Linked DNA regions of Homo sapiens. The protein of the gene in region 1 purifies or fractionates together with the protein of each later gene. This does not show direct contact. Each region holds a gene or a part of one and is shown in the gene's direction. Other genes may lie near its edges.

Region 1 (4,127 bases):
TCTCATTTAGTAGTGGAGCAATCTAGAAAACATACCTTTTTTGTTTGTTTGGAAGATCCTCTTTCCCTGGCTGTATTGTAGTGTTTGCTATTTGATGTGGAAATAACTAATAACTTAAGATTTTGGAACAGAACACCCTTTAGATTTCCAAAACACAATTCTTATTTCAGGGAAGACAGACCAAAAATATCTCCTGAGATCATTGGTTTCTTTATAAATTGTGGTACCACTCCATCATTGAAGAGAAACCACTACCACACCACTAGCACCATACAGAACCTTTTCTCTGTATCTTTGTACAATACTACAAAGGGGTACCAGGGAGGAGAGAGTGGCTGACCACTTTAGTGACAAAACAGCACTCCACTGCTGGTGAATCCCATCTAATTATGGTCCTTCCACCCTTTTCAACCACCAACAACTGTTCGTACTGTTAATTCCTATCCTGAAGGTTTAACCAGTGGTTGTCTAGTATCTTCTGTCTTTAGAACAGTGGTTCTCAAACTTTAGTACACATCAGCATCACCTGGAGGGCCTTTTTTTAAAATAAGACACAGATTGCTGGGCTCATGGTCAGAGTTCCCAGTTAAGTAAATCAGGAAATTTGTATTTCTAACAAGTTTATAGGTGAGGCCAATACTGCTGTTTTGGGAACTATGCTTTGAGAACCACTGCCTTGAAAAAATTTCCAACTTCTACCTTTAAGATCAGCCTGACTTATCAAACGCTAGAGAAAAACTGAATCTACCCTTGGGCAGATGACTTGGGATTGGATTCTATACAGCAGTCTTGCTCAATCTTCCCAGTTTCCAGTTTTATTATACCAACAATTGGTTTTTACAAGCTAGAAGACAATGAATGTATAAGTTCTATGGAACAGTGAGATAAATCTAAGCTTCTTGTCTTTGTATTTAGAAACATTGATTCTATGGATGATCATTTGTATCATGTTGACCCTTTGACTTGTACTGAAGGTGATTTTAAATTTAAGTATGTAGTGTTTGAATTTCTTCCATCCATGTCGTTTTAATGAGATGTTTCCATGTCAGCTCCTTTACAGCCTTGGCTCCTGGCTTACAGATTTTTGAATAGTTGTTTGCTTGCCAGTTGTTTTACATCTTTCATTGGCCACCAAAATATTAGCCATTTGAGATGAGATGAGACTACTTGTTGTACCTTCATCTTTCATTTAATTTTCTGGCGTAAATTAACATTTTAATTTCATATATATCTGTAAAGAGTCTACCCAAAGGCTTCACGGAAATTTGCAAAATGAACTAATTCCCTTTTAAGCAGCAGGTGTGCCTGTTTTTGACTTTTCAGTAAATATGTTGTTTGTGCACATATCTACATGGTGGAGACCATATTCATTATTTCATCTTCCAAATAATGGGAAAAATATAAAAGTGAATCAGTGTGCTTTGGGAATTCAGTGAAATCATGTTAACTCATATAGAGGGGGCCTTAGTTTATCTCTTCTTTACTGAATTAATTAGTTTTGGAAATTCTTTTACCATTAAAAAAAATTAAGGACCATACAGAGAATGATTTAAGAAAAAACAAGTCACTTAAAAATCATCACCTATTTATAAACTGTATTAATTACACATAATGCTTATTGATTCAATGAGGTTTCTCTAAAGACTTCTGCTTAATAAATATGCTGACTTCATTTAAATTAGTTTAGACTATTGTAGGAATGGAAGGAAATGATTATATTTACTAGAATTAGTGAGATCAGAAAGCATATCAGAATGTTGATGATATCAAGGAGACAATCTACAGAGTTTTTGCCTCTGTGGATGGAAATAAGGGTGTTTTTTTTTGGTTTTTTTTTTACTTTAGTTTCCCATAATTTTTGGAAATTATGTGTGCATTTAGTTCTTTTAGTAACACTGATTTTAAAATTAAATTTCAAAAGTCAATCTCTAAGAGTAATTTATTTTTGTTTTACCAACCAGTGCCAAAAAGGAGAGGAGGGAATCCAAAAGCCAATCTTTTGAACCAATGTGTAAAAGATTATGTTTTTTCTTAAAGTTAGGGAGGCTCGGGCCCTGACACTGCCAGCCCCAGTGAGCATCCCTGGCTACCTCGGGATTATGTGCAAGCTGCTTTGTCCTACATTTCTTTCATCTGGTTCTTATTGGGAGTGCTTCTCTCTAATAAAAATTGATTTCCCACAAAATAGGCAAAGCTGAACAAAGATGAATGCTTTTGATAAGTTGGGTTTCACTTCAGTTGAAACAATGTGATAGAATATCCAGGTGTGGCATGATGGGGCAGGAGGAGGTGCCTAGAGGGAAAAGTTATTTTTGTTTCTTAGTGTTGTGTTGTGGGGATGGGACAGATAAGAATAAGATGTTTATTGCCCTAATCATGCTAAGAGACTATTATTCAATATGCTTTTCCCGCTTTTCTAAGAGGAATAAACTTAGACAAATTACATTATAAACAGTTCCCCTACTACTATCTCCCACTCTAGATAAAGCCAGTGGGTGGTATGGGTCCTTTTATTCCTTATAGTATTATGCCAAAGAATCAACTTATTTTCATTGAAGATTATAAATAAATGAAGCTTGTTATAGCCATAATGATTTGAGTCAGTATACCATTTTACCTATAAAATGCAAAATTCATCCTTGCAACCCCATTCACCAGGAGCCTTGAAGCATTTTGTTTACTCCAAAGGCCTTGTCAAGGAAGCATAATTTTTTGTTTTGCCTTCTTATTTAGTCAGTTTGGTCATATTTACTTAAAAAAACAAACTGAAAATCACACTCCTTTATATGTTGATATAACTGATTTTATAGAATCTGTCTGTTCTTTGTTTAACAGGTCTCTGTAAGCAAGCTTGCAAGTGTATTTTGTGTACATTTTATCTGAGGTGGAAATGAAAATTCTAAAGAGAAAATATTTTAAAAGATATTGTATTTATGTTGCTTGTGTTGTAGAATAAAGATTCAAATGCATTAAAAATCTGGTACATGAAACAATTGTGTTTACTGAATAAATATATATAAATATCCTGTGTTTACAGAATTCTGTCAAAAGAATTAGGCCCCTTTTCATGGCATTTCATAAGTCTAAATGTAAAGGCCCATTTTAAATCCTGTAACATGGAGATAGTCATTATTGACAATTTGGTATATGCCTAAAAAACAAATTTGTAGAAATAATATATCATTTCCTTGTTTAAAAAAAGGGCTTATTCTATGATATTATCTTTTACTCATAAGAACTTATATCAAATTCCTACTGTCAGTAGATATTGATGTAGATCATTCATTTAAAAAATTAAAGTATTACCTTTTGTTCATAAACAACCAAAAATCCAATTAATAAGAATATTAGTATTTAAAAGTAATATTAAAAAATACAGCCACTTTTAACTTCCTGATCTTACTAGATTATTGTTTTAAATACACATATATCAAAATATCACACTATACCCCATAAATATGTACAATTAATGTAATTAGTGATGTCAATTAAAAACAAAATTTTTTGCATGGTGGCTCATACCTGTAATCCAAGCACTTTGGGAGGCTGAGGCAGGCGGATCACAAGGTCAGGAGATCAAGACCAACCTGGCTAACATAGTGAAACCCCATCTCTACTAAAAAAAAATACAAAAAATTAGCCAGGCGTGGTGGCAGGCACCTGTAGTCCCAGCTACTCGGGAGGCTGAGGCAGGAGAATGGTGTGAACCTGGGAGGCGGAGCTTGCAGTGAGCCAAGATTGCGCCACTGCACTCCAGCCTGGGCGACAGAGCAAGACTCCATCAAAAAAAAAAAAAAAAAAAAAAAAAAATTATATATATATATATATATATATATATATATATATATATATATATATTTAAAAAGAAAACGTTTTAAAAAAAAGATTGTAAGTCTATAATATATCAGCCTAGGTATCACCCTGCCCAAATCATAGAAAACTGCCGTTTAGCCAAGCTTGGGGTAAAAGACATTCAAAATGCTATGGAAATTGAATTTTTGCTTATAAGCTTAAGTCATGATTCTATCATGCATACACACTAGTAGTCTCAGTTACACCACCAAGACTCAATCACTTCCATCATAAGGATGAAATAAAACTAAGATAGGCATCAACATACTTTGCAT
Region 2 (5,085 bases), on another chromosome or scaffold:
TCATGCCTGTAATCCCAGCACTTTGGGAGCGAGAGGTGGGAGGACTGCTTGAGCCAAGGACAGCCTGGGCAATTTAGCTACACTCTGCCTCCACAAAAATTTAAAAATTAGCTGGTTGTGGTGCTGTGTGCCTATAGCCCCCACTACTCAGAAGGCTGAGGTGGAAGGACTGCTTGAGCCCCGAAAGTTGAGGCTGCCATGTCCATACCACTGCACCACTCCAGTCTGAGTGACAGAGTGAGATCCTATCTCAAAGAAAAAAGAAAAACCATCTGTATTTCCAATTCTTCTTCTCAACAGAGTATAGCAGAAAAATGACACACAAACATCACATGTAGAGTTTGCATCAGAAGAGGTCTTTAAAAAGATCAAGACAACAGATTTTTACAGTTAAAAGAGACCTCTTGGTTATCTAGTTCAACTTTCTTCTATGTATGAATCTCTATAGTATGCCTGATAAATGCTCATCTACCTTCTACTTGAATATTCTCAGTGATGGAGAAATCACTATTTGAGAAGGTACTTGATTCCTTATTTTGACAATTATAATGTCCAAGTTAAACCCAATGAACCCAGCCCTTCCTTCTTAAACCACAGAGAATACTCCTTCTTCCTTATGGTAACCCTATAAATAATTAAACACAGCTATAAAGTCATCCCGTCTTTTTTTCCTCAGACTTTTCTAGTTTCATTCAACTACTTCTCATGTTATAGTTTTCAACATTTTCACCAAACTGATTGATATCCTCAGTGTATGTTCCCATTTGTTTCTACTGCTTCTAAAATGGAGCCTGGAGCAACACTCTAAGTGAGGTTAACCCAGAGTGGAGAATCTCCTAGGACAGGACTAGTATATATCTCTCATTATAAACTCCATACGGTTACTATTCAAATTTGTACTGGCTCTTACCTAAGGTAGAGTCAAACCTTGACAATGGCTAGTAGGAAAAAGGATGACATGAAGCCAGGATGGGACCAGAGCTGAGAGAACTGATCCCACTCTGGCACCGGATCTTTGGTGGGAAGGCAAAGCTGTCTAAAGGAGTCCTAGATATATCAAAGACATTCAGGGTGTTTTGACAGGTGGACCAGGAAAATATTGCTGGAGGAATATTTGAAGTCAGACATGTGGCAGCATCATGCCTCCAATAGGTTTTGGAGCAGGCTCTCATCATCCCTTAGGGAACATGAGAATAAAGACCTAACCCCTAGGGGAAAATGTTGCAAAGAGCTTTTGCTGTGTTTTCAGATGACTTTGCAAATTAAAGTCAAGAAGACTGGAGTTCAAAGAAGGGCTGTATTTCTAGGCAGAAACTGAGGTAGTAAGAATCTGGTGTCATAAAGACCTTTGTTGAATTCCATCTTTTCTGCTTTCCAAGCCTAAGTTTCCTCATGTAAAAATGGGGATAAGCACTTAACTTTAGTACTTTAAGTACTAACTTTAAAGGACTGCTGTGAAGATCTAGTGGGATAATATATGTAGTTAGGCATGCAGTTAGTGCTTATCAAATGTTATTATTATAGATTAAGATGCACAAATAAAATATAAGTTAAATAAATTTTAAAATAATTTCACTTTTGAAGCTTTTAAAGTAATTATGTACTAAGAGCATTTTCTCAAATTATTCTTAACACTTCCTTTAAGAAAAGGGCTATATCTGTTTTTTGAAAGATGACCAGAAGTGACATGGATTGGTTGAAAATGGCTTGTAAAGTAAGCCTAACATTTATGATTTATTACCATAAAAACTGTACCAACAGTACGGTTATAACAAATACACTTATTTTTGGGTTTTATTTTCAAGTAAGATAATGACTTTATCATAAACCTTTGAAATCAGTCTTTTTACAGTATAAATTCAGATTCATTAATCCACATAGAATTTTTCTCGATGGTATAATTCTGTATTTGTTAAAAGTCTTTGCATAAGCCCCTTGTCAAGCCAAATGCTGTTTTCCTTTTAGTATCCAATTATCTGAAACTTAAGAAGAGTGTGCACCGCCCAATGGGTGTGTGTATGTGCTGCTTTGAACCTATAGTTGAGATCCAGAGAATTGGGAGTGACATCATCTGTAACAATAAAAGAGCCTCTCTTGGTAAGCAGAAGACCTATATATAAAAGTCACCATTTAAGGGGTCTGCAGTCCAATTCATCAGTTGTCTTTAGTTTACTCAGCATCAGCTACTAACATACCTGAACGAAGATCTTGTTCTAAGACATTGTATGGTAAGTAAACTTAAAAATTCACTTCTGAATCTCATGAGATTTTGATAATCAAGTTATTATTTAATGTGTACCATTTCTACAAATACCATGTTGTTTCTTCAAGGTAAAATGCTAAGAAGTTTGAGTTATGTTTAATATAAAATGCCACATACAAAATAAATTAATGCTACTCAAATCACAAAATCCTTTTTGATTAAAGTCTTCTGAGATACCTTGCCTTTTAAAACCTCATCTGAAATTACAACAAAAAATCATTAAAATTTGGCATGCTATGCTTTAATATAATAGTATCGGTGTCAAAATTTTGAAATAAAACAGGTTGATGGTGAATGAATAGTTCTGATTTAAATAATCTTTATAAATTTATTAAGTGGAGTTAATATTCTGTTTTTCCTGCAGAGTATTCTTATCTAGATTATTTATTTTATGGCTCATAAAGAGCCCAATCTGTATACTAAAGTTGGATAAGCCCAGTTTGACTAGTAAATATTTATTTCCTTTACATAAATGACAGCTGTATTCTGAAAACAGTATTTCCTATGCTATTTCTAAATGATGCAGTTTCCCTGTAAAATAGGAGTACATAACTACTCTATGTGTATGTTAAAAGGTAGTACACTGAGCATTAAGGAAAAGCACTTCTATAATAACAGCCTTTGCAAGTACTGAAATGCAGATTAAGGCAAGAATATCCTATACTGATGTGAAACGAGGAAAGAGACAAAAGTTATATTAAAAGATAATTGTTAATAAAATAAGTTGAAGAAATAAGCTACAAACAAGCATTCCATTCAGAGATAAAGCTCGAAATCCATATCACAAGTAATTAATCAGATGATTTTTAAATGCTTTGACACATTATTTTTAATGCTAGGAGAAATGTGAATTAATTTAGTGAAAATCTCTAGATTAGCACCTATTAGTTTGGTATTTATGGTTATTACAATGCCTGAAATGAAGGTTACTTAAGAAAAGGATTTGCTACGTAAATAGTGTTAACAATTTACACTATGAAGAAAATTAGGCATTTTCAAGCAAGTTATAAACATTTAGGTATAATCAACATAAAATGCAGTGCGGGGGGATTTCTCAAAAATAGGCTCTTTCATTCCTCTTGTAGCTTAAGATTTCTGCAGTGTGACAGAAGGGAGCATGAGAAGCATGGCTCACCAGCCAGCCTCTATTGTCTATGTAATTAGAAGCTTCAGAACTCACTAATACCACTGTACCTTTCACTGGCGCATTACCCCATAAAACTTGAGATGAGGTGAGATCTGAGTATAAAGATAGGTCAGAAGTATTTTAAAGGGCTTAATTTGCCAAAAAGAAAAGTAAAAAGCTAGAGACCCTTTTTGCAGAACATTTGGTGACCACACATTTGAGGGAAGATGTGGCATTAGATGAAGCAGAAGCAAACCCTGCTCTTAGGGGCTCATCTAGGTGAGTGCACAGCCTGTGACACTACAGGGAGAGGCTCAGTAAACTGAGATCCAGCATTCTGTATGACAGAGGCATTGCTTATCACAGAGGTTCTGAATTTTAAGTAGGAAGTACATAATGAAGAGGGCTTTAAAAATTGCTAAGAAAGCGAGTCACCAGGGCTGGCAGTAGTGTAACAGGGCCATCCTGAGCTGTTAGGAGAGTAGATGCAGGGAGGGCTGGTGACCTCCGTGGGTTTATCTGTTGGAGACTCTTCTCTCCAAATCCCAGGCCTGGCTTCCAGCACCATCCAGCTGTGCCCAAGAAGCCACGCTGGTCTGTTCTCCAAGTCTTTTAAATGGTGCCTAATTTTTCTAAGTGAGCTTAGCAATGAGAAGAAAAAAAAAACATGAATTATTTTTCTGGAAAATCAAGGAGACATGGGTAACAACAGGCACTAATAAATATTTATAGATGAGTGAATGAGGAAATAATTACATAAAAAAGGTCAGTGACAATTGATAAATGACAAGGAAATATTTAATTAGGTAAAAGTAAACCATTGCTCTCTATACTAGGATAGACTTTATCTACTTCGTCTTTTCCTAAGTCAGCATGTTAATTCTGGGGGAGGATCATAAGAAAGGAAATACTTTTTTAAAAAAAATTTAAAAACATGTAACAAAGCAAGGGTAAAATATATGTATATACATAAGTGGTATGACTGTAAAACTGTACTTTCCATTAGTTATTAGCTGAGTTAAGAGAATGATCACGTTGAAGTACTGTGTGGACTAGAAATGTACTCTGTCATCATGCAATGAAATGTTGCTAACATTTTAACATAGCTCATTTATGCAGAATGAATTCTGGCAGTTTACCCCAAGTCACAGTTAGGACGGTAGATGGTGAGATCGCAGATGCGTGATTATCTAGATTCAGTGTTACATTTTTGATGTTTATCACTCAGTGGATTTTTATTAATATGCTGATTAAGTTATTTACTTGGCCAGTCATTGTGCTAAATAGTTGCTCTTTTGTGTTTCATTGCCTTGATGTTTGAGTGTAATCTAGCATTTTAATACAGTGTTTATTTTGCATGATCTTTAACAAATGTTTTAAGCAATTTTAAAAAGGCAGGATGTTATTGACATTATACATTGAAGTCTTAACATTTTAATATTTATAGTGCTTATTAGTTTGCAAAATTGTATAATTAGGAATTATTTCAGAGACAATGTTTTCTTTTTCAGGTGAGTAGTTGCCGCTTAATATCATTGGAGTACATTCTTTATACTGTTTGTGAAATTAATACTAGCATATTAAGTGTACAAATAGATTTAGAAAACAATAAAAAATTGCATTCTAAAAAAATAAATAAAAATAAATAAATAAATAAATAAATAAAACTTGCACAAGAAATCTCCAAAAGATAGTT

What was found. The genes of interacting proteins can lie anywhere in the genome.
Region 2: the proteins of ARFGEF3 (region 1) and PTH purify together in Homo sapiens (affinity purification with western blotting, with the first as the bait; one study listed by BioGRID). This does not show direct contact.

What each region holds. Positions count from the first base shown.
Region 1 is NC_000006.12:138,341,641-138,345,767, forward strand, and holds the end of ARFGEF3 (brefeldin A-inhibited guanine nucleotide-exchange protein 3), read left to right. Parts: 3' UTR 1-3,023; downstream 3,024-4,127. UniProt on the Homo sapiens protein: Participates in the regulation of systemic glucose homeostasis, where it negatively regulates insulin granule biogenesis in pancreatic islet beta cells. Also regulates glucagon granule production in pancreatic alpha cells.
Region 2 is NC_000011.10:13,493,054-13,498,138, reverse strand, and holds the start of PTH (parathyroid hormone isoform 1 preproprotein), read left to right. Parts: upstream 1-2,141; 5' UTR 2,142-2,228; intron 2,229-5,085. UniProt on the Homo sapiens protein: Parathyroid hormone elevates calcium level by dissolving the salts in bone and preventing their renal excretion. Acts by binding to its receptor, PTH1R, activating G protein-coupled receptor signaling.